Regions from separate parts of the Homo sapiens genome. Here all the other regions are linked to region 4. Evidence: fine-mapped expression QTL. A gene starts in region 4. Each other region holds a variant in brackets. All regions are shown on one strand. Distances are from middle to middle.

Region 1 (5,107 bases), 130 kb after region 4:
GAAACTTCACAAGCAAGCAAAATCCTAGAGCATTGTGTCTTCAAGGAGTTTCATGAAAACGATAAAAAGAACCCTGACAAGCACTCTTGAATAAGGCTTCTGATAGCTTTAGGATAATAACATTTGGACTTGGTAAGAATTCCCAGAATTCTAATGAAGAAACCGACTGGTTTATAAAATTGCTAACCTAAGCAGGATAAAAATTAATTGGATACCAAGAAAATACTTTGCCAGATTTTCAAGCTAAATCAGTCAGTATTGAAATTGTTTAAATATGCAATTTGAATGAATTTCATGCTCCAAGTCAAATGATAACTCATCTAATAAACAGTGCTATGCTCCTAAATTGAAGAAACGAAATTGATATTCAAGAGGGTATAAGTTCAATGTTAAGCATGGACTTATGGAGAGCCTGGATGGCAAACTAGACCTTCTTGGTCCTTAAAGCTTCCAATATTAAAAGCTTTGCATTCCATGACTTATAATGGAAGAAATAAAAATATAAATTAAACACACACACACACACACACACACACACACTGACTATTCTAAACTGCTGAAATAATTTATGACCAATGTTTGCTTTGTCAAACCCAAAATCCTGCAAAGATGATCAAAACTTCAGGTACATTTCTGATACCTGATGGCCTGTTTAAACATTTATAGAGGGATTTCATGCAATTGTTATTTTCAATGCATGTTTTCTGGTTGTATAGAAGGTTTCCCATGCAAGAAGATTGATGTTATTACAGCAGCTAAAAGGTTATTAGAAATTGTTTTTCTCTAATGGGACATTTCTGGAGAAATCTCTAGTGATAGAGGTACTTGTTTCACTGAACAAGTTGTAATAGTTAAATATGGTATTACAGATACAATAGCAATAAATAAAACTAACTGAATATTGAATTGCCTTGGTCAGAGGTATTGCAGAATGATGACAGTCAGATCCATTTAAAGCGGAAAACATAAGTTGACCCCTTATGCAATAATCACTGGAAGGCTTATGCACTTAATAATAGAAGCTCATTATCTTTTATCACTAAACTCTGATATGACTAAATGCGGCAAGACTTTTAATGCATTGTGCCAAAGTGTATTTTCACCAGGTGAAGAGGTTTTTCATGGTCCACTGACTAAGGACGATCAAACCCTTCACAATCTATAATAGAACCTGGAGACTGGGTCTTCTAAGAACAACATCAAAGAAAAACTACCTTTGCCACCCGCACTGCGGCAAAACTTGAGGATCTTGAACCTTGAGTTCACAACTCAGAAGCTCCCCTCCAGACTCTTGGAACTATATAGCCATTGGGTACCTAAGATAAAGCTAACCAGGGAAGTTTCTCCCCAGAAACAGACAGCATCTTTGACATACACAGCTTTTTCCCAAGAGCATGTTTTAAGGCTTCTCTGCTATCATGAGATTCTCATCTCTAAATTTTTTCCTTGCCTATGTCTCTGTGAACAATAGAACTGAAAAAGGGGCCTCTTGTGTGCACTCATGAGGTATACATTTATTTTTGGAGGATGTCACAGCCAGCCTTATCAATAAACAATCTTCTGCCTTGACAGACGGAAGAGGAAGGGCCAATGTAAGTGAGAAATTTTAATGGTAACTTTGTTGCTTCATTATCTATCAAAACCAGAACATTTGTCCACACCTCTTAACCTACATCATAGGTTAAAGAGAACATTGCCAGAGGCCTTCATTCTTTTGGATGGGCATCATTTATTAGGTCTGTTTTTCCATGGTTTAAAGTAAATGAGGCAATGATTAGAAATGTATCCCTCGGCTGGGCGCGGTGGCTCACGCTTGTAATGCCAGCACTTTGGGAGGCCGAGGCTGGCAGATCACTTGAGGTCAGGAGTTTGAGACCAGCCTGGGCAACATGATGAAACCCCGTCTCTACTAAAAAGACAAAAAAAATTAGCTGGGCGTGGTGGCGTGTGCCTATAGAAGGCTGAGGCAGGAGAATCGCTTGAACCTGGGAGGCAGAGGTTGCAGTGGTCTGAGATTGCGCCACTGCACTCCAGCCTGGGCGACAGAGCAAGACTTCGTCTCAAAAAAAAAAAAAAAGAAAGAAATGTATACCTCATAATAGTCTGTAGATCTGTACAGCAGATTCTACTGCAAAGGCTATGGTTACACAACAGACTTTAAACTCTCTTGTGTATGTTGTGCTAATTAATAGAATTGCTCTAGATCATCTACTGGCTAAACAGAAGTATCTGTGCAGTTGCTGATACATCTAGTTGCCCATGGGGAAATACACTGGACGTTATAGAGACTTGACTGTAGGGAATTAATGAACAGGCTGCTTGGTTGGAATGAATAGACTTTTTATCTAGCTCATTCTTTGGTCTATTTGATTTTAGTTGGTTTGGTTCATGGGAACCCCGGCTAAGGAGCATACTTCAAACTTTTGGTATTACCCTCCTGATAGTTGTAATAAGAGTCTCCCTGGTTTGTTGTATTCCCTCAAAAGTTTTAAATATTTGCAAGCAGCCATCCATAAAAT[G/A]TCAAATGGTCTTTCTTCAACTGGAATGATAAAAACTAAAAGAAATATGAACATGGGGTAACGTAACCTAAGAATGATATGCTGAGAGTGGAAACCCAAAATGATGATAACTGAGAGTGGTGCTAAGGCTGTAAGTTTTGGTTATACTCTCACCTAAATGAGAACCTAACCAAAAGGGGAGAATTTTTAAACAAAATGATGGGAGACCATTATTTTGGATTGAGCTCAGGTAGTAGGCCACAACAGACCAGACCAAACCAAACCAAAATGGAGTCACTCATGCTAAATGCGACATAATCAAATTGAAATTTTAATGAAGCAGGTAGGTCCTAAAACAGGCCAAGTTTCGTTTTTCTCCTGTAAACAGGAGATTGCAGCACAAGAAGGTCCCCTCTACTGTAACCCTTACAAACATAGGCTGGGCATGGTGGCTCACACCTGTCATCTTAGCACTTTGGGAGGCCAAGGTGGGTGGATCTCTTGAGCTCAGGAGTTCAAGACCAGCCTGGGCAAATGGCAAAACTCCATGTGTATTAAAAAACAAAAACAAGATGCCTTTATTCCCACCTTGCAAAACCCACTGTTTTGCTATTTCTCAATGGGATTTAAGACAGCATAAGGATATTTAGCATGGTAGTAGAGTAACATCAATGCCTACAGTTTTGGTCAATCTCTCAAAACTGGGGAATTGCTAAATTAAATTTAATCCAAAGCGCCTACTTACATATTTTAAGTTTGACCTAACTTATGGTATCTTCATACTGAATAAACTGTAACCTAACTGGATGTATTAGTCCATTTTCATACTGCTATGAAGAAATGACTGATGTAATCCCAGCACTTTGGGAGGTGGAGGTGGGTGGATCTCAAGGTCAGGAGATCGAGACCATCCTGGCTAACATGGTGAAACCCCGTCTCTACTAAAAATACAAAACAAAAATAGCCAGGTGTGGTGGCAGGCACCTGTAGTCCCAGCTACTCAGGAGGCTGAGGCAGGAGAATGGCGTGAACCCAGGAGGCAGAGCTTGCAGTGAGCTGAGATCACGCCACTGCACTCCAGCCTGGGCAACTTGAGTGAGACTCCGTCTCAAAAAAAAAAAAAAAATTAGACTGGGTAATTTATAAAGAAAAAGAGGTTTAATGGACTCACAGTCCTGCACAGCTGGGGAGACCTCACAATCATGGCAGAAGGTGAAGGAGGAGCAAAAGCACATCTTACATGGCGGCAGGCAAGAGAGTGTGTGCAGGGGAGCTGCCCTTTATAAAACCATCAGATTTCATGAGACTTATTCACTATCATGAGAACAGCATGAATGCCTCCATGATTCAATTACCTTCCACCAGCTCCCTCCCATGACATGTGGGGATTATGGGAACTACAATTCAAGATGAGATTTGGGTGGGAATACAGCCAAACCGTGTCACTGGATTTGTAAACAGACTGTAAACTACTCTTGTGTTGATCACTGAGTTTTGGCCTATCAAAGGCGGCCAACTCTTCAAACCGCATTCAGATAAGGCAATTGCCAAGCTGTAACTGATCCAGCCAGTTTTGTACCTCATTTTCATTTTCTGTCTGTCACTTTCCTTTTTCTGTCCATCAATTTTCAACCATGTGGCTGCTCCGGAGACTCTCTGAACCTATTCAGGTTCAGGAGTTGCCAGATTTGTGAATCATTCTTTGCTCAGTTAAACTCTGTTTAATTTGTCTTAGGTTTTTCTTTTAACACTCAGTTGTAACTCTATTGCCTACATAAGTTGGAGAATGAATATGGCTCTGGAGTGACCGACTGACTGGCTTGCTCAGGACTGAGATATTTTCCAGGACTTTTGATTTTAAAACCAGGACAGTCCCAGGCAACCCCTGATAGTTGGTTACCCTTTTTGGGTATTGAAAGGCTCTGAGCCATACTATGTGACCATTCTATTTCATTAATCTTTCTATTCTGAATCCTTCCTCTGATATTCTGTGGCTAGACCTTATCCTGAGTTATAGACCTGGGAATAATGCCTTGAAAGTTAAATGGTTCCTTTGGATAAAGTAAGTCTATTAACCAAAGACAAGTCCATTTGCAATGGACTTCAGCTCTCTGAGTCTTTATTGAAGTCTTGAGCTCTCTATTAAAATCAAGTAATCTCTATTAAACACAAGTAATCACTGGCTGATTCAGGTGCTTTATAAATCTATTTTAATAATTTGCTGGAGGTTGTAAATTATAACAAGGTGAATGAAGCCAGTGATGAAGTGTTGTGTTGGGATAGCTTTCTCCCTGAGAGGAGAAACTGAGGCAGATAAGAACTGAGAAATGGATAGAAAATTATCCAAAGAAGTTACACAAATTGGCCAATAAACACATGAAAAATGTTCAATATCATTAGCCATCAGGGAAATGAAATGCAAAACCATGAGACAGCACTTCACACTCACTAGGATGACTATAATAAAAAAGACAGACAGTAACAAGTGTGGGGGAGGATGTGGATAAATTGGAACCCTAACACATCACTGATGAGATTCTAAAACGGTGCAGTCACTTTGGGAAACAGTCTGGCAGTTCCTCAAATGGCTAAACAACAGGTTGACGTAT
Region 2 (5,107 bases), 110 kb before region 4:
GACATCTAATTTCAAGAAGGGACAAAGGGATCCCCAATAATTGGGAAGTCACGTCACACCTTGTTCTTGGCTAATACACAGCAGAAGGTGAAGTATGTTTTCCAAATGCCCCTTGTAATGAAACAGTTCTTGAATGTCTTCCCAGGACAAACTGGGAAGGGGAGCACCTATCTACCGCCGTTCCCGCGGTCCTGCAGTCCTGCAGGTGGGCCAGTCCTGCCAACTCTCCAACTCCCCTCGCAGAGCATAAACTGAATCAGGTGGCCGAACCACCGGACGCCAGAGTCCCCAGTGTCCGCGCCCACACAGGCGTAGGCAGCTTCCCAGGCTTTGGGCTGGGGACCCAGGCCAGGTCCCCTGGCTCTTGCTCCCGCCCTCCGCTCATGCTCACTGTGGCCCCAGGACGTGGGCGATGTTGCAGGGAGCAAGGGGCGCCTCTGCCTGACTTGCCGGGGTCGAGCCTCCCTGTCCCACCCCACCAGCCCTGGGAATACTGCGGCCTGGCACTCCCGAAAATCCCTCACTCACAGAGCTGAAGGACTTGCTGGGTCCCTGGTGGCCCCTGTCCAATCTTAGCCCACTGGGGTCTCAGCTGCTGTAGCCACAGGTGGACAGGCACAGTGGGCAGGTGCTGGGTCCAGGAGTCTCCTGTCGCCTAAGGCCGCCCGAAAGCAGCTAACTGACCTCTAAAGCCCCTAGACCCCCCTGCCCCCTTGCCGCCCAGGCAGGCCCGCCCCCACCGCTTGCCCGCTCTGCGATTGGCTGCGCCAGCCGCTGGGCGGGGCCTTCCGGCGTGCTGACTCCTGGCATGTGGAGCAGCTCAGTCCCCTTGCCTCAGTGGAACCGGGGGAGGGGAGCTGGGGGCTACGAAGAGAAGGGTCGGAGGCCTCCCTGGAGGGTTCGGATCAACTAAGTACCCTATTTAATGCCCTGGGCAGGTGGTTTATGAAAAGAAATTTACGGGAGCCCTGTGTGCATTTTCAGCCTAACCCTGCTTTTCCCTTAGGCCTAGAATGTTTGATTAAAATCTCCTGCAGGGCAGAGAGCCAGAGGACTCTAATCCAGTGGTTCCTGTTTAGTCCACAGCAAAGGTGCGGCCGGTTGGAAGAACGCACAGCCTGCAAGCAGAAGCCTTATCTCCCAATTAAGGGTGTAGAAGAATCTGGGCGTGTTGCTGGTGGCTCATGCCTGTAATCCCAGCACTTTGGGAGGCTGAGGCAGGCAGATCACTTGAGCCCAGTAATTCGAGAACAGCGTGGGCACCCTGGCGAAACCCCTTCTCTACTGAAAATACAAAAATTAGCCGCGTGTGGTGGCCCGCGCCTGGGGTCCCAGCTAGTCGGGAGGCTGAGGCACCAGCATCGCCCAGCCCGGAAGGTTGAGGCTATAGTGAGCCGAGATCGCACCACTGCACTCCAGCCTGGGCGAGAGGAGACCCTGTCTCAAAAACAAAAAAACAGCAGACAAAAAAACAACTGGTAGGAAAACGCACCCTCAAAACACATGATGAGATGGTCGAGACTAGACCCTAGGAGGGTGGGGACTGGCTGGGTGGGTATCCAGAGACCATGGGCGTTTCATAATGCATTGTTTCCAGTCTCCTCCACTCAGCGACTCTTCTTCCCCTGAAGTCTTGCATTAAGTAAGTGAATGAATCAATCATCAAGTTAATGAAGCTCTGACTTTGTACTTGTCCTTTGCTTGGTACAGTTGGGCACTGCCTTAGAAACAATCTCCAGGTAATTTTCCCAACTGCTTTTGTGAGGCCCAGTTTTCCATTTTAAAATCTAAGATTACCTCAGTAATCTTGCTTTTACAGCAAATGGGCATGGAGCCTGACAGATATATTTAAACTAAGTTATGGACAAGCTGCCCGGTGCATTAGGTAGCATAGGAGCTAACCTTGTGGGACATCTCCCCATATTCGTAATATTCACCCCTACATCTATAATCAATAAATGCTTGTTTGGAGGCCATAGAAACTCTTACTGAGATCTGACCTGTGTCTTCTGCTATCTGCCTGATTTCTCCCCATAGAACAGGAAAACACCGTGTAGGAGATATTGTGAATAGAAATATGAATATAGGCCGGGCGTGGTGGCTCACACCAGTAATCCCAGCACTTTGGGAGGCCAAGGCGGGTGGATCACCTGAGGTCAGGAGTTTGAGACCAGCTTGGCCAACATGGCAAAACCCCGTCTCTACTAAAAATACAAAAATTAGCCACGCGTGGTGGCTGGCGCCTGTAATCCTAGCTACTCAGGAGGCTGAGGTAGGAGAATTGCTTGAACCCAGGGAGGCAGAAGTTGCAGTGAGTGAGTTGGCACCATTGCACTCCAGCCTGGGCAACAGAGTGAGACTCTGTCTCAAAAAAAAAAAAAAATTACAAAAATTAGCCAGGCATGGTGGTGGATGCCTGTAATCCCAGCTACTCAGGAGCCTGAGGCAGGGACAA[C/T]GGCTCAAACCTGGGAGGCAGAGGTTGCAGTGAACCGAGATCGCACCACTGCGCTCCAGCCTGAGAGACATAGCGAGACTCCATCTCAAAAAAAAAAAAAAAAAAAAAAAGAATATAAATAGAAAATACAGTGATTCAAATAAGCAATTGTTAGTTCCTCAGATCAGAACTGTGAGTTCTATACTAGACTCTTACATGTTATTTCTTCTGGTGTCTTAGCAATGATTCTGAATAAAGATCAGACTCCTTAGTCAGCAGGTGGGACAGTTCTCAATAACAGAAGCTGGGTTCTCAGGGGATCCCGTGGATATGAGGATGAAGGTTAGAAGCACTTGGGACCATACCTGCAGGTCTGATTTGAGGACAATGAGACCAAGACAGGAAGGCAGCACCTGCTGAGGGGCTGGGGGTGGGAGAAGGGAGGAAACAGGACACAAGAAAATAAGTATAAACCACCAGACTGCAGTCAGTGATCAACAAAATTCCCAAGTTTATATTGAGAAGATTTCCCTGGTTTGGGGTTTTGAAGAGATTATATAAGGGACTCGGGTTGCTTGATTTTTCTCATTCTTTTTCTTTTAACTTGGTCTCAATTTTTTTGTAAAAAAAAAAAAAAAAGAATGTCTTATGTGCGCCTTTAGAACTGGTGAATGAATGAACCTCCCTTTTTAAATAACTGAGATTGTCACTGAAGCACTGTCATCCGATTTAGGCTTAAAAATCTGACACTGAATTTATCCTAGGTGATAAAGTGCAAGTCTCTTGTCTCCTAGAAATGATCAGGCAAGGAAACACCCAGGAGGCCCAGGGCAAAATGCCCTCCTGGAAGCTGGTGGGGTAGGAAGATGCTGAGGCCCAGTATGGTCCCTGGAGCATGCATTCTGTGTGGTGACAGAAATTGTTTGCTTGACCATACATTAGTCAGGCTTCTGAACCTTCTGATAAACGCATCTGTGCACTTTTTGTAAAATTCAGTTTTAGCAAATTACCCTGCTAAGTCAGTTTAGCTGGCAGGAATCCCCGTCCACCATATACTGATCAGGGTCCTCATCCCCCACCATCCCGCAGCTGATGTCAGATAACCTTGGCCTGTGCTCAGCGAGAATCTCGTTAGGTCAGTTTAGCCAGAATCCTCCCTTACCCTTGATGTTCCCTCGTAGTCATTTCCTATCTGCTAACCCCCATCCTCCTCCTTGACTATAATTCCCACTTCCTTGTGCTGGATTCAGAGTTGAGCACAATTGCTCTCTCCCACTGTAAGAACTACTTGCAGTGCTCCTAGACCTACATATGTGAACCTGTTTCTTTAACAGTGACTCACCTGTCTTTTTCTCCTTTCAACTTGATACTAGCTGAGGCTTATCCGCATCAAAGTGGAGGGACTGGCCCCGGGGGATCCTCAGGGCTTCACCTTGATGGCCTGCAGGCTCACATTCCACTTTTTCTGGTGCCTTCTGGCTCCCAGAGTCCAGTTTGCCAAACAAGTGATGGAGGTTGGAAGGAGGGATGAGGTGACAGAGGTGAAGGAGGGTAAATTCTTTTCTAAGCCCTACTTGCCTGACATGCATTTAGGTTTTTAGAAAGGAACGTGACCCCACCCTTTATTTTGTATCTCCCACTTCCATGACCAGCCTTACCTGTAAAAATGGGGCATAGAAGAGCCCCCATCTCCTAGGGCAGTGGTTTTGAGCAGGGGGTCACTGACCAGTAGCACCTTCATCTCTTGGGAACTTGTTAGGAAATTCTGGACTTGGGGTGGTAGATCATGCCTGTAATTCCAGCACTTTGGGAGGCCGAGGCTGGCAGAACACGAGGTCAAGAGATCAAGACCATCCTGGTCAACATGGTGAAACCCCGTCTCTACTAAAAATACAAAAATTAGCTGGGCATGGTGGTGTGCGCCTGTAGTCCCAGCTAATGGGGGGCCGAGGCAGGGGAATCACTTGAACCTGGGAGGCGGAGGTTGCAGTGAACCAAGATCATACCATTGCACTCCAACCTGGGTGACAGAGCAAGACTGTCTCAAAAAAAAAAAAATAATAATTCCTGGAAATGGATTAGCTTGCTGACAAGAGTTATTCCATTGTGTGTTTCTACCTGCAATACCTGAGGATGCCCATTTTCTCACGATTTATAAACTAACTCATTTTATAGACGTAATTTTCATACATTTGGGGGTATCATTCTAACTTCATTATTATTACTTCAAGGTGTTATTATCTCCCCGTCATCATCATGGTCATTATCATAACTAGTTGGTGCTGACAGTAGTCACCCTGCATTGAGAACTCATGCTCCAGGCCCTTTCCACATAGACTTGATTTAATTCCATTCACTCCTCACAACAATCGTCTGAAAGAAAGACTCACTAAGCCATTGTATAATTGAAACACAAGAGGTGAGTGACTTGTGTGCCCTTGGGCAGGTAATTTAAACACTCTGTGCCCCCAAGTTCCAATAGATAAATGTAAATAATAATATCTTTCTTACCTAATACATGGGGTCAACAGTTAAAGTACTGTACATTTGTGAGGTATTTCATGGCACCTGTGAATTGCTCATGTGATGACATAGTGTGCTTCCAGTGTCAGTGTGCTGGGAAGGAGACAGAATAGGAAGAAGACTGAAAAGATGCCGAGTCTAGTGCAGGGT
Region 3 (5,107 bases), 760 kb before region 4:
GGAGAGAAAGAAGCCAACAGGCACTGGAAAGCAAAGAGTTGAAATGAGAGAGACGGAGTGTTCTGCCAGTGTGATGGCTTCTGGATCTTGTCATTCCCAAGGCTCCACACTTATCTTTTCCTTTTGCTCAATTTCCCCTTTATTCTTTTTTTTTTTTTTTTTTTTTGAGACAGAGTCTCACTCTGTCACCCAGGCTGGAGTACAGTGGCGCCATCTTGGCTCAATGCAACCTCCACCTCCTGGGTTCAAGCAATACTCCTGCCTCAGCCTCCCAAGTAGCTGGGATTACAGCCATGCACCACCACACCTGGCTTATTTTTGTATTTTTAGTAGAGATGGGGTTTCACCATGTTGGCCAGGCTAATCTCGAACTCCTGACCTCAAGTGATCCACCCACCTCAGCTTCCCAAAGTGCTGGGATTACAGGCATGAGCCACCGCACCTGGCCTTCCCTTTATTCTTGACCTCGTTTAAATTGGGTTTCTGTCACTTGCAACCAAAAGAATCTCAACTAATACAACATCCAATGCCAAATTCAGGATGTGACATTCTGTCATCCATGCTATAGCTTCAAGAAGTATTAAAACAATAAGATGTGTTTTCTATTTGTAATTGCACAGCTCTTTCAAGGTCTGATTCAGGTGCTAAAAATCATACATGTTATGGAAAACTTCCTTTTACCTTTCAGTAATTCCTAGAAACAGATTACCTCGAAAAAGAATGAGTTTGATTTTGTTAAACATAGTACCCTCAGAAGGGTCTTCATTATTAAAAAGAAAAAAAAAATGCTATGAGAGGATTTTACCCTAAACTTATTTGAAAACAAATGATATAAAAGGAAATATAGCAACTTTTCTAGAAATGAAGTCATTTGGAGTAGAACAGAAATAAACTGAAATATTTGACCACCAAGTAGCTAAGCAAACCTTTAGAAAATATAATGCGAGACGAGGTCTTCAGTTTATTATTTGGCTGGTAAATTCCCTTTGAATGCAAAACATTTATGTTATTCATATATCCTTGTCTGCTTAAACAAGGTGATTAAACTTCTATTGAGAAGGCCTTCAAATAATCCGCCATCCATGCTATCATTTCTGAACATGCATGCTAAATAAATGCAGAATGCTTATAATTGTAACTATAATTTCAAGACAAATACCACATGCCTTCTGACTGAATCTCTTCCATAGAGGAATTCCAGGGCTGCCACTGACTTAGTTCTCCATCCTCCTAGCCAACCTGCTTCTCCTCTTGTATTCTTTCTTTCAGTGAATTGTAGGCACCACCCGGTCATTGAAACTAAATATCTGGGATCATCCTAGTGTCTTCTCCCATATTGCTCTGACAACAAATAACCACCACAGGCTGCCCATGTACTTCCTGAACCTGTCTTGAATTTGTTTTCTCCTCTCATCCTCAGGACTCCTGCCTTTAAAAAACATCTCTCCTCTGCATCATCTCAGCAGCTTCCTAACTGATCTCCTTGTCTCCATTTTGCTCCGTATCCACCCCCGAATCCGTTCCCATTCAGGATCTCTCCAAAAATAAATCTGACCATCTAATGGACCTGCACAACTTATAAATGTCTTCTCATTATCCCTCAACAGAGCCCAAACTAACCTGCATTTACAAGTCCCATATGCCAGGCCGCTGTGTCTCTCCAGCCTCACTTCTCAACCGCAAGTGCTACCTTCTCATGATGTGCCATCGTCCTGGCCACAGCGGGCCGGTGTTCCCACCTCGGTATTTCCAAAACACTCCTGTATTTTCACATTATTTAAAAACTGTCTGTTTACATAGAAATAACCATTTGGGTCGGGCTCGGTGGCTCATGCCTGTAACCCCAGCCCTTTGGGAGGCCGAGGAGGGTGGATCACCTGAGGTCGGGAGTTCGAGATTAGCCTGGCCAACATAGTGAAACCCCATCTCTACTAAAATACAAAATTAGCCGGGCGTGGTGGCGCATGCCTGTAATCCCAGCTACTTGGGAGGCTGAGGCAGGAGAATCACTTGAACCTGGGAGGCGGAGGTTGTGGTGAGCTGAGATTGCACCATTGCACTCCAGCCTGGGCAACAAGAGCAAAACTCCATCTCAAAAAAAAAAAAAAAACATAATTGAAATAACCAAAGAATGCCATAATTGTTATTGCTTAGCTGAGAACAAAGTGCTGTTTTTCACAAACAAATTCTATTCAAAACCCCAAATATTTTATTAAGTAAATTCTTACAGAATACCTTTCCATTTGCAAATCAGTTATTCCCTTTATCTAACTCTGGTTCAGAGTATAGTTCTCGCCTTTTTCCTTCTGCTTGTTTAAATTCGGTTGCTGTCACTTGCAACCAAAAGAATCTCAACTAATACAATGTCCAATGCTGAATTCAGGATGGGTATTATCCTGAATTCAGGGTATCCTGAAAACTATTTCAAATAGAAGCACTGGGAATGCAGGAGAATCCCAGCATTTGTGGAAGAAGGATCACTGCAAGGCATCCAATGTGTGCCTGGGGTAGAAGGAATGCCAGTGGTGATGGCAATTCTATCTTGCATGTGGTCACCTCCACATCCCTGCGGAGCCCCTCTCATCCTACTTGTGACTTTCTGGTGAGCTGCAGGAGAGGGAAGCATTGTAGAAAAGTAGATACAGATTGGAGAAGGGCCTGACTCAGCCTGGAATCCAGTGTTTTGTGGGGCCATCTTTAAGAAAAAGAATATATTTGGGAGGCTGAGGTGGGTGGATCACCTGAGGTCAGGAGCCCAAGACCAGCCTGACCAATATGGTGAAACCCTGTCTCTATGAAAAATACAAAAATTAGCTAAGTGTAGTGGTGTGTGCCTGTAATCTCAGCTACTCAGGAGGCTGAGATAGGAGAACTGCTTGAACCTGGGAGGTGGAGGTTGCAGTGAGCCAAGATCGTGCTACTACAGTCCAACCTGGGTGACAGAATGAGACTCCACCT[CA/C]AAAAAAAAAAAAAAAAAAAAGGAAAAGAAAAGAAAAAAAGAATATAAAATTAGCTGGGCGTGGCAGCATGCGACTGTGGTCCCAGCTATTCTGCAGGCCAGGGTGGGAGGATCGCTTGAGCCCAGGAGATGGAAGCTGCAGTGAGCTGTGATCACACCACTGCACTCTAGCCTGGGTGACAGAGTGAGACCTTGTTAAAAAAAAAAAAAAAAAAAAAGCTGGCAGGACGCGGCGGCTCACGCCTGTAATCCCAGCACTTTGGGAGGCCAAGGTGGGTGGATCATGAAGTCAGGAGTTCGAGACCAGCCTGACCAACATGGTGAAACCCCGTCTCTACTAAAAATACAAAAATTAGCCAGGCGTGGTGGCACGCGCCTGTAATTGCAGCTACTCGGGAGGCTGAGGCAGGAGAATTGCCCGAACCTGGGAGGCGGAGGTTGCAGTGAGCTGAGGTTGCACCACTACACTCCAGCCTAAGCGACAGAGTGAGACTCTGTCTCAAAAAAAAAAGAGAAAAAAGAAAGACAGAAAAGAAAAAAAGGGGTTACAGTAGCTGCAAACACCAAATGGAGTATTCATTTAGAATGAGGACAAAATCACAACAAATGAGTGGAGTCCCAGAACTCTAGGTCACTTTCTTCTAAAGCCTACTTAGGCAAGTTATCAGAAAAGCTTACATAACAGTGTTCCCTGGGCTGGGCGTGGTGGCTCACACCTGTAATCCCAGCACTTTGGGAGGCTGAGGTGGGTGGATCACCTGAGGTCAGGAGTTCGAGACCATCCTGGCCAACATGGTGAAACCCCATCTCTACTAAGAATACAAAAATTAGCCAGGTGTGGTGGTGCATGCCTGTAATCCCAGCTACTTGGGAGGCTGAGGCAGGAGAATCGCTTGGACCCAGGAGGCAGAGGTTGCAGTAAGGTGAGATTGCACCATTGCAGTTCAGCATGGGCAACAAGAGTGAAACGTCATCTCAAAAAAAAAAAAAAAAGTTCCCTGATTGCAAACTAGCTTTCCCTCTCAACCTAGAATATTCCAGCAACTCTTAGCACCCATGGGGGTCTTTGGAAGTGAGGGAGGAGCCTTGAAGTTTAAGCTGCATTAGTTTCTTGGTAAAGCTACTCTAGACTCAGGCCAATAGAATAAAAGACACAGCCATTTTGGGATCCTGATTCCCTGGTTCATGCTCTATGTTAGGAATTGGCAACATTTGTCCAGGACTGTTCCTGGAACCAGGGCCAAGACATGCCCTGGAATTGGGAGGGGAAATCAGATTACTGAGTGAGGCAAGGCTGGAAATGGCTCTGCAGCTCCCTCCTCCTAAGAAGCGGTTACCTCTCTCCACTTTCTAGTTGAATTATCCCTATAAGCCCAGGTTTAATGGGAAGGTAACCCAAAGAGTAAGCAAGCTGTTGAATGGTATGGTAATATGAGGTTGCGAGTTTAGGAGGAAAGATGGGGTGTTGCAGAAGCCCCAGGCAGTGGCTCAGACCTGAGCCATAGATACCAGGTCCTTTTTTAGTTGCTTGGAATGATTTAAATGACCAGGATAATGTCATAGTTTGTAGGTTAATAACCAGAATGTGACTTTAGAGGAAAGGAAACAAGTTTTCTTATTGTTTGCGTGTGTGTGTGCATGCACCTTCTATGCTTATGCACAGTGCTTGGCACTTTATGTATCTTTTCTCATTGAACTTCACAACTCTACCAGGTAAGGAAGCCAAGGTTTAGATAGGTAAAATACATCTCCCCAAAATACCTCTCTCCACTAGGCACTTGATGTGAAGTCCTTTCCTTTGTGGAAATACTATATTCATCAGAAGCACTGGGAGGAAGACAGAGTTGAGTTTAGTTCCACATTCATTGAGCCTTTACTTTGAGCAAGGCCTCATGCTAAGTAACTAAGTACTTTATTGTGAATTCAGAGGCAAATGAGGCACAATCCTTGCCTCACAGAGCTCATAGTCTGGTTGAGGAGATAATTAAGTTATGCATAATTTCACTATCATAAGGCAATAAACGTTTCTTCAACTTTATATAAAGCAGACCTACAAGCAAAGGACAGTAAACACATGTCCTCTAGGAGCTTTCTGCAATTGTAAAATTTCTCTTACAATCTAATATTTTAGCTTTAAAAATCATGCTC
Region 4 (5,107 bases):
TTTCAAACTTGTCTCCTATGTTACTGTGGAAACTGAGGCCATCAGACTTGAATTCTATGAACTCTCTCCTGCCAGATCTACAAATTTATCCCCATGTTCACCCATCCTTCTAACATTCTCTTAGAAGATAAGGTCTCATCTCCTTCTGGCCCAAATCAAATTCTCTACCTGTGTTTTTGGTTCTGTCCTCTCCCATCTCTGCAAGGACCTTGAACCATTAATTTTCCTTTCTGCCTCTTGTATTGTGTTAGATTTGCCAAATATATTGCTCCCATACCCACAATTTCTTATGAGGGGAGGTGATGTTCCCATGATCTCTGCAAAGGAATAGCCATGTTTCGCACTATGCAAACTTCTCTGTACTACATGATTGGACCAAGTGGGCACCTATGTCAAAGGGCATCCAATTTACAGAGTGCCCAGATAATTCAGACATGGTCTGGCATGAAATGAGGAGCACGGCCTGTGACCTTTTTAAATTTTTTCAAAGGCTGCTTAGTGCTCTAAGAACAAGATATCCATTTTAAGTGAAATGAGTGGATTTTTATTATTAGAAAAGTTATGAAATGATCTTTGATGCATGTGTTGCCTGTGAAAGTCATTCACTTTAATGTTCAGTGGGAGTAAGTGTAATCCATGTAATTGCTAGAAAGCTAGGCATCTTAGCACAGGAATAATCACACTGAACATTAGTAATGATAAAAATATCATTTATAGCGGCCTATCATATGGATTTTAAATACATCATCTCTGTCATGATAATCCCATGATATAGGTTCTAATATTACCAATTTTCAGATAAAAAAAAAAAACTAAGGCCCAGAGAACTTGGGTCACTCAATTAATAAGCAGCAGAGCTAATTAGAGTCTGGGTCCAAAGCTTAAGCACTCTTCGTCTTCTTTATATTTGGCTTTTTCCTAGCCAAAAACATGGAGGCATTGCTTACTTTTACTTTATCATTGTTATCTTGGCATAACATCAAAATAATTAGGAGCTGATATACCTAAGTGTATAAAACAGGATAAAATTAATTGATGAGGAATTAGATAAGGAAAATAAAATCAAACTAGGGGCAAATTTCATGTATAAAAATGTGTACTGTGCCATACATTTTGTAAGTGGAGTCTCTAAAGATTGCTTCATAAGGAAGAAGTGAATAATGACTTTGGGAACACTTGGTAACCCCTAGGACTCAAAAGATTGGGTGTGAGAAGTTATTAGTAAGCATATGTATTAGGCAAAATACAGTGAGATGAACCTGGAACAAATGCTCGCTGAATGCACTTAGAAATATTATCAGGCGACTCAGCCTATAGAGCATACGGGTTAGAATGTCTATTTTAAGAAGGAGCGGATATTTACTAAATGCTAATTTGAGCAAAGTTCTACAAAAATATCACTGACCATGAATATTCAGGCATTGACATGCTACAAAATAGCATATCGAAAAGAACATCTGTTGCCCTAAAGATGGTTTCCTGCACAGAACGTCTCCAAATTTTCAGCATTCATAGGCTGGCCCCGTTTCTTCTTGGTTAACATTTAGAGGCACGCCTAAACTTAGAGGAACACCTCTCTAAACCAAGGAGACACTTAAAGAGAAAAGGAGTAAAGATGGTGATGGGCTTATAAAGAGCAATGTAATAGTGTCTTTGAAGCAAAAGCTAACTTAATGAAAACGTGGTCCCAATTTCCTTAAATCTGGATCACCGTACGACTTCTGTAATACTTATTATTTCCCCAGCTGGCAAATAAACTGGAGTTCAAGTGGGAAAAAACAAGGTATTGTTCAGACTTATGATTTTTGGGGTCAAAGATTCTGAGCAATAACCTATTAAAAAACCCAGCTTTTGATTTGAGTATGTAAGTAAGTACATGGGAGGAACGTATGGATCTGGAGTGGTGGTAAATACAGAGCATGTTTGCTTCGCAAAGCAGATTAGCTCATACTTAATAATAGAGTAAATCTGTTGGGCCATGACTCAATGCACCCAAATTCTCTAGATTGCTATGTCTCTACTCGCTAAGCCTTCGGGAACAACAAGCACAGAACTTTTAGGGTGCTGTCTCACTGATGTCGGCGTTAGCTCTGGTAGTCCAGGTCAAGATTATACCAAAGATTCAGGACTTAAATTCCTGCAGAATGTAAGCCCCTTTCCAAGTTCTCTGCTTTACTGTATCCTGTTTATTTTCAAACTCAAATGGAAAAAAACGAAACAAAAACCTTGGGCTTCAAGAGGCATCCTGCCGCAAGGCCCAGCGATGTGAATTTTCAACAACCGTCTCAGGCAGATTTCATGCTGATGGTTCAGGCACTAAACTTTGAAAAACACAGTATCACAGAGTAGGGATGGTGATGTAAGAGTCATCTGTAAAAGCTGTGCTGTTTTGGCAGCCTGGGAGGCTAAGGTTTAGTCTAGGCGACTAAGGTTTAGTCCGGGCTGTATTCACACCCAAAACAACTAAAAAAGCGGAGGAGTCTTTGAGTCAATCCCTGAAGCTCCGGCTAAGAGGAAACTCGCCCACGCTCCAGGGCAGCGACGCCGGCTCCACCTCAGCCACGGCTGTCTCAAGCTTCTCGGGGTTTTCCGCCGGCTCCACCCGAGCCACAAGTCTACAGGACTCCTCGGAGCTTTCCGCCGGGACGCAAGACCCACCGCCAGAGGTTGGTACCTCCTAGAGAACAGCGAAGCGCATCCCGAGGGCCGCCGGCCGGAAGCGCCCTCCAGACCCGCCCCCTGCCCTCCGGAGCCGGAAGCTGGGCATCTGCAGCTGGCTCGGCGCACTCCACTGACCGTCCCGACGATGCTACGCGCGCCCGGCTGCCTCCTCCGGACCTCCGTAGCGCCTGCCGCGGCCCTGGCTGCGGCGCTGCTCTCGTCGCTTGCGCGCTGCTCTCTTCTAGAGCCGAGGGACCCGGTGGCCTCGTCGCTCAGCCCCTATTTCGGCACCAAGACTCGCTACGAGGATGTCAACCCCGTGCTATTGTCGGGCCCCGAGGCTCCGTGGCGGGACCCTGAGCTGCTGGAGGGGACCTGCACCCCGGTGCAGCTGGTCGCCCTCATTCGCCACGGCACCCGCTACCCCACGGTCAAACAGATCCGCAAGCTGAGGCAGCTGCACGGGTTGCTGCAGGCCCGCGGGTCCAGGGATGGCGGGGCTAGTAGTACCGGCAGCCGCGACCTGGGTGCAGCGCTGGCCGACTGGCCTTTGTGGTACGCGGACTGGATGGACGGGCAGCTAGTAGAGAAGGGACGGCAGGATATGCGACAGCTGGCGCTGCGTCTGGCCTCGCTCTTCCCGGCCCTTTTCAGCCGTGAGAACTACGGCCGCCTGCGGCTCATCACCAGTTCCAAGCACCGCTGCATGGATAGCAGCGCCGCCTTCCTGCAGGGGCTGTGGCAGCACTACCACCCTGGCTTGCCGCCGCCGGACGTCGCAGGTGACCCCCCGGGCGGCCCGTGTGCTGTCCCGGTCCTCCCACCCGCCCTGGATGCTCTCCCGCCTCCCCCAGACCCTGGGCTTTTCCGATGCCCCCCAGTTCTCTTTCCTCTTTTCCCAAGCCATCATCCCTCGGGCTACGTCCTCCCTGTCGAGGGATATTACAGACTTGGCTATCTCTTTTTCCCCTTACACGTATGTTCATTTATTAATTCATCAGGTGTAAATTCAGCACCTTGTACTCGCTGCCTGCTTTAGTAGAGTTGGGGATCCAACAGGAAAGGGGACAGACGAGGTCTCCCGCAATTTTTGCGCTCCCGTTCCCAAACTGAATTGCCCCTTCGAGCGCCAACCCATCCCTTCCCCCTTCCCTGGCGTCTAGTTTCACAATTGGGCGCACGTTTTAAAAAACAGAATCTAGAATTTTCTTCCTCGGGCTTTGCTTCCGATACTAGTTTTTCCTTCTTTCTTTTTTTTTTTTTTTAAACTCATCATCTTTTTCAGATGACAGTTTTAGACCTACACCCTGTTTTAGGAACCTGATCTCAAGCCTTTGTGTCCTCCTTTTTTCTTCTGTTTTGTTCATGTTTTTACTGTAGCGTTCCCATCGTTGTAGCTGTGGTCCGTGGTCACAAGCAGTAACAACTCATTTATTCCATTAATTACACTTTTTCGAAATTTGAGAAATCATCTAGTAAGGCCCCGTTATTTCACAGGTGAAGAACCCGAGCCCAAGAGTATGCCTTCTTAATTGTCTTTCTCTAAGGTCTAGTATCCAAGTCTTCTGTTTTCCTAGAATGGTTCTTTTTCTCTTAGAAAATGTTGTAATAGTTACAAATAATAATGATAGCATACACCTCATGCCTATTGTATGCCAGGTATGCCTCACATTTATTTTACAAAATCCTTACAACCACAATCTGGAGTTGATAGTATTTTCCCCTTATCTCAAAGATGAGGAAATTGATACACGAACACATTAAATAATTTGCCCATTTTCATACAGCTAGCTGTGGACCCAGGAAATCTGATTCAGAGCTTGCTTTCTTAGCCATTATGCTATACTGCCTCCATTTGTCCAATAACATACCTAATAAGAATAAAAACATGTAACATTTTTGTACCACAGAGATGAGCAAGCATTAATAGTTTCTTGATCACTTTTAAGGCCAGAATTGAAGTGAGGATTATTGTTTAGCTTCAAAGCCCAAGTGAAAAATTAGAAGTAGGCTGGTTTGTAATTTCTTCTGTAGCTGTTGAACAGTGAAACCATCTGTAAGGGATTTCTCCACTGATTCTGTGTCATGTTATTGTGGGTAATTCAGTTAGCTGACTTGTGTCTAATTACTTGTTGAACTGTGTTTTTTTTTAAATATATACTTTTTCCATTAGCATGAGTGAAAATTCCTCATAAATCTGTTAAATTAACAGAATGGTGAAAGCAGAACATATTTTAATATAACACAATATCTATAGCGACTTCCTGGAACAAGTGAATTTTTGTTCTCAGATGGCATTGCGAAGACTGGCATTTGACTCTCAGTACAGAGCCAGGGATGAAAATACTACAGTTCAGAATAAGCCCACTCCTGACCGTTTTCAGTGTCAGATAGCAAACCCTTTGCCTAGCCACTTTATTATTCTCTATAGACAATAGTTTTGCCT
Region 5 (5,107 bases), 95 kb before region 4:
AAATTAAACAGTCAAAAACATGTACCTGCATGATCACCTCCACACCTTGACTGCCTTCGTCTGCAGCACGCTGCTGGTAAAGGCTGGGTGGCTGCACCGTCGTCCCCTAACCTAACATTGCTTTCATCTGTGAAAATTCGCTTGATAGCCAATTAAGCCATGGAGGCTATTACATTTACACGGAGGCTACGCACAATCTCAGGGGAGGCTCAAACAGCAGTTCGTTCCTCACACGCACTGTTGGGTGCAAAGGGCACCTGGAGAGTGAGGGAGACCTGGGCGCTTTCCTGCGGGGCCTTGGCCACGCGGCCGTCGCCCGCACCCTGTCCCTTGCCTGGCAGGGGACACAATATTTGTACAGATTATGGTATAATTTGAACGATTTCCTAATCTACTTATCTTAATTTATATAGTTTATTTAAATGTCAAGGCAGAGAAATACATTGCTCATGTTAAGGTCACGTGATGTGGTGGCGCAGTAATGACTTCCTGAGGAAACAGAGAAATTGGATGTTTTGTGATTTAGCTATGTGCACTAAACTTATTTTCCATGTTTTGAGAGCACATTAAACATTCACGTACAATGTGGGAATAGGCTGGCTCGTAACCAAAACGTCCAACCCAGTGCCACCCTTTGAATCGCTGCGAACACCATCCTATTGCGGTTCAGAGAAAACAAGCAAGGCTGCGAAGCCCGGGGGTTCAGGCAGCTGCAGCGCTTGGGCCAAGGTAGCTCCGCTCTCTGGTCTGAAGCCACGTGGCCCCACCCCGGGGCGGCCTGGCTTTTTTATATTGCTTATTGCTGTGTTTGGCATGCCATTCAACCCATCGGGATGTTGGATAGTGACTTGAGAGCAATACCTAGATTTGCCCTGTCGGGATGTTGCATACTGAGCTCGGAATAAGCCCTGCTCAATTGAGGCACTATCACTAGGAGGAGGCACTGATTCCCGCCTTTCAATGCTGTCTATTGGTGAAAGAGGAGTTGGATGGCATCTGGGAAATTAGTATCACTTCTACTTTTTCTTCTTTTCTTTTAAAGGTTAAAAATACCTTGTATTAGTTAATACTGCTATAAAATATGAATATCCAAATCTCTGTGGCTCAGTAAAATAGATTTTTTTTTCACTCAGAGAAAGTTCAGGTCCACCCTTAGTAACCCAGGCTGACAGAGACTCTTCCATTTTCTATACATAGCTTCCCCAATTGCCCAGAGAAGAGTGGAAAGATTTTATAGGTGACTGTACACAAGAATAAGAACTTAGTACCTAGTCACTAATTTACTCGTTGAATAAACATTTATGGAGCTTAACATATTAATCACTAGGCAGACGCTGGGACACAAGAAAAATCTTTAAGATATGTCACTGCTTATTACCAATAATGTTCTAGTGAGTAACGAGAGTTAATAATACGACTAATTATAGTATTGTAAATATAATTACAGTTCCAATAAGACATACACACACAGAGAACAATTTTATCTGGTGGTTGAGGAAATCTTTATTGATTTAAGATATCTTTTGATGAACAGGATTTTTCAATAACTATCAGAAAAAGAATGTCTATGACTTATTTTTAAAAATGATTTTCTTATCTGCCTTGCATATCTGACACTTTCATCTCCTATCTTCCTTGAATACAATATAGAACCTGACATTTCTTTCCTTTCAAAGATCCTTAGAGCATTTCCTACATTTAATCTGAATGTCTTTCTCAGTAATTTTTCCTATACAAGCAATTATGGCTACATTTTCTTAATATAATCATGAAAAGGTGAGCAAAACTGAAAATTTAATTTGGAGAATAGATACGAAACATATTCAATTAATTCAAGTTGTTGTTAGGCTGCATATGTTCAGCTTTCAGTGAAGATGAACAAATGATGATAAATGAGAAACTGAAAGAAAACAAACCAATAGGTGTTTTTTAAGAAACAATATTATTAAAGTGCATGTGTTTTCTACTGAATGAAAGCAACATAGACCTTTTCCTCACATTGGTAGTTAGTAAGATATATAAAAACAACTTTGTAAAGAACAATTAATACAGGTTAATGAATCATTGTGAAAAGGGGATAACACACTTTATTCTAGGAATGATCTGCAAGGTGTTAAAAGTTAAAAAAGATGAAGAACAATTGAGTAGTTATTTGATCATAGTGTTTATTAAATTGCTTTTCCTGTATCTGGAAAGCTTTACAGAAATGTCTTCAACAGAATAACTGTGTTAAAAGCCAAATGAAATGCATTATGAAATATGATTCTTCACTTGGTGTGCAGGTATAATCTCAGGTGTAATTCACACAAAGAGACAAATTCAATTTTAAAGTTCCATTTGTTACAATTTGATGATTGTGATTAAAGAACCATAAAAATTTTATCTTTGACATTTCATTTTTTCCTCACAAAAGCATTCTACTGTAATTTTCTTAGTTTTCTTTCCTCTTAACTGTGGTGTTACCTATAAATGCTGGATTTCTCTGTTTTACGTGCAACAAATCTACAATCAACTATTTCTGGAACACCACTTCATCTTAACAACAAGGACCCATAAATATTTTAAAAATTCAAAATGTTATATATAAAACGCTAAATGATACACATAATACATTTC[T/C]AAGTAGTAATTATGATTATGCCCATAATTATACCCATAATTTAAAAATATGTTACCTGAAGTAAATTATTATACATTTTATGTTGGAAGTGTTCATTTATCTTTGATCTCTGTTAACACATTGTACTATGTGGTAATAATATAAACTGCCTTACTGGATAGTGATGTATCTTTGGTTTCATATTGTTACTGGACTAATATTCCAACACTATAGATAGTGAAATTTAACATTGAAACAATTTGATAATGCCATCAATGAATCCAGTTTTTAAGAATGGGATCCATTTTCTAAAATTGAGTATATAGATACTTCATGAGATATCTTATCATGCATCCTAAACCAAACCAACCTCTTCCCCTGACTGTCTTACAGTGTATTATTATTTTATCCACCGCAGCAACTAGTACATTTTTCAGAACCTAGTAGATATTCAGTCATTGTCTATGGAATACATGAACACATTCTGAATTTGGACAGTCATCATTCTTGGTGTTTTAAAACAAACACTTCCTGAATTGCATCCACTATTTTCTAAGAAGCCCTAGGAATTCATTGAAGGAGGGTATGGGTAAGTTGGGGGTGAAACTGTAAAGATGTAGGTCCTCCTCCCAAAACTTCTTCAGCGTATCTTCATTGCTGTTTGTTTGTTTGCTTGCTTGCTTATTTTAAAAGAGATCTAGATATAGTCTAATAAGAATTGCATAAATGTGATGTTCCACAATGATTCTAACTTACATGGTGCAAAATAATAAAATATTACATTCTAGCTGTTTGTAGAAAACCATGGATACTATAAAGGATCTAGATTTTCTCTCTCCTTTCCTCCTAAGATTTATTCACTCAGCAAAGACTTACCTGGTGACTACTTAGTGCTAGACACTGTTTTAGATACTTGGGCTATAACAGTGAAAAGAACAGTAATTGAATTAACGAAAAGTTCATTTTAATTAGCTGTATGGTAAAATAGGAAACTAACAAAAATAAAATATAACATGTCAAATGGCAATGACTGCTCTGAGAAAAATAAAGGAGAATAAGAGGTTCTAAATTATTATATATGGCCAATATTACCAACATATTATAGAAAGCAATGAGTTCATAATGTTTATCAGAGAATTCCATGAAAATCGCTAAATTTTTCTAGAAAGCCAGGCACTGATAAGAGAATAAACAAACAGATAACCGATTTTAATTTGATCTTCTCTTACAGGTGCAGCTATGATCTGCCATTGTATATAATATAAAATTAAAAATTGTTTATATTTCATTCACGTTAGCATATAATGTTCTTACTTTTTTTTTTTTTTGAGACGGAGTCTTGCTCTGTCACCTAGGCTGAAGCACAGTGGCACAGTCTCAGCTCACTACAACCTCCACTTCCTGGGTTCAAGTGATTCTCCTGCTCCAGCCTCCCAAGTAGCTGGGACTACAGGCAGGCAACACCACGCCTGGCCAATTTTTGTATTTTATTAGAGACGGGGTTTCACCAAATTGGCCAGGCTGGTTTTGAACTCCTGACCTCAGATGATCTGCCTGTGCCTCGGACTCCAATAGTGCTGGGATTACAGGCGTGAGCCACAGTGCCCGGCCAACATTTTTACATTTAAATATCAGACATCTATCAGATTCCTTTCTCCCTACTACAAACATTGTATGCTTTTCGATAGGCATAAGATTTTGTTTTCATTCAGGTTGGATTCAACAAGTATTATTTAGCAGTTCATTGCATCTATCCATTTACCCAATAGAGGAAGTATACAAGATACAAATGAATAAAGTGTAATAATTCTTATACTATTTGCCCTTATGTCATGTAACTGCTCCATGTTTGTATTCCGAAAACCTAACTGGGAGGGAAAACTCAGAAAAATAGAATAAAAAGTATTATATATCTCATACATCCTCATTTTAGAATATTCTAGGGGTACAGATCAGTATAAATAAAATACTCTGGTAAGTGCCCACCACATCATCTGTTTGTCATTCTTAGACCCAGAGTATACCATTCTTTTAAGAAAGAAAACTTGCTACTGTACCTCCTACCCAGTAACATATATATCACATATCATATATATATCATAACATATATATCATATATCATATATACACATATCATATATCTCATATATATAACATATTTGCTACTGGTTAGGAGTAACACTCAGAAAATCACACTTAATAATGTAGTACAATTAGGTATAAATTCACTTAGTATTTTTAAATTTTACGTGTATTCCTATTTATATGAATGGTCATTTAAAATCACATCTACTGATCCTGATAGCATTAAAGGCATAAGAGGTACTGAGGATATTAATTTAATTTTGTTTACAGCTATGCACAGATATTTTTAGTTCACTCAGATTTAATCCAGTAGTCTATTATTTGATTAATTGTACAGCTATCAAATCATTCAGGACTCCCACTGTTTCAACAACGAGTGGAAAAATATTTTTTCATTTATGTTTATATGCAGCTATTTGTAGTCTA

Direction of the effects. Alleles are on the strand shown, and positions count from the first base shown. SD is a standard deviation of normalised expression in the study named. Not every link is listed here.
In carriers of allele A in region 1, the expression in esophagus mucosa of the gene that starts at base 2,784 in region 4 tends to be higher than with G alone (large effect, 1.1 SD a copy in GTEx).
In carriers of allele C in region 3, the expression in skeletal muscle of the gene that starts at base 2,784 in region 4 tends to be higher than with CA alone (large effect, 2.1 SD a copy in FUSION).

Evidence for each region. PIP is the estimated chance that this variant, and not a neighbour inherited with it, causes the effect.
Region 1: its variant is the best candidate, but not a certain one, in a credible set for the expression of MINPP1 in esophagus mucosa (GTEx, PIP 0.55).
Region 2: its variant is the best candidate, but not a certain one, in a credible set for the expression of MINPP1 in blood mononuclear cells (TOPMed, PIP 0.71).
Region 3: its variant is the best candidate, but not a certain one, in a credible set for the expression of MINPP1 in skeletal muscle (FUSION, PIP 0.90).
Region 5: its variant is the best candidate, but not a certain one, in a credible set for the expression of MINPP1 in whole blood (TOPMed, PIP 0.84).

What each region holds. Positions count from the first base shown.
Region 1 is chr10:87,628,664-87,633,770 of GRCh38, forward strand. No RefSeq gene overlaps it. Among named protein-coding and RNA genes, the nearest start is that of PAPSS2, 29 kb to the right of the region's middle. The variant G/A (reference allele first, on the strand shown) is at 2,520.
Region 2 is chr10:87,390,609-87,395,715 of GRCh38, forward strand. No RefSeq gene overlaps it. Among named protein-coding and RNA genes, the nearest start is that of FAM245A, 15 kb to the right of the region's middle. RefSeq lists an enhancer at 1-864. The variant C/T (reference allele first, on the strand shown) is at 2,456.
Region 3 is chr10:86,738,238-86,743,344 of GRCh38, forward strand. No RefSeq gene overlaps it. Among named protein-coding and RNA genes, the nearest start is that of BMPR1A, 16 kb to the right of the region's middle. The variant CA/C (reference allele first, on the strand shown) is at 2,959.
Region 4 is chr10:87,502,110-87,507,216 of GRCh38, forward strand. It overlaps MINPP1 (multiple inositol-polyphosphate phosphatase 1), which reads left to right and starts at 2,784. Exons shown (of 5, transcript NM_004897.5): 1 at 2,784-3,443. The coding sequence starts at 2,807. MIR4678 (microRNA 4678) reads left to right here and starts at 1,772; the gene lies at 1,772-1,845. It overlaps LOC112268064 (a long non-coding RNA gene), which reads right to left and starts at 2,725. Exons shown (of 2, transcript XR_002957094.2): 1 at 2,226-2,725. RefSeq lists enhancers at 2,754-2,843, 3,004-3,063.
Region 5 is chr10:87,407,478-87,412,584 of GRCh38, forward strand. FAM245A (family with sequence similarity 245 member A) reads right to left here and starts at 223. Exons shown (of 3, transcript NR_046091.1): 1 at 26-223. The variant T/C (reference allele first, on the strand shown) is at 2,617.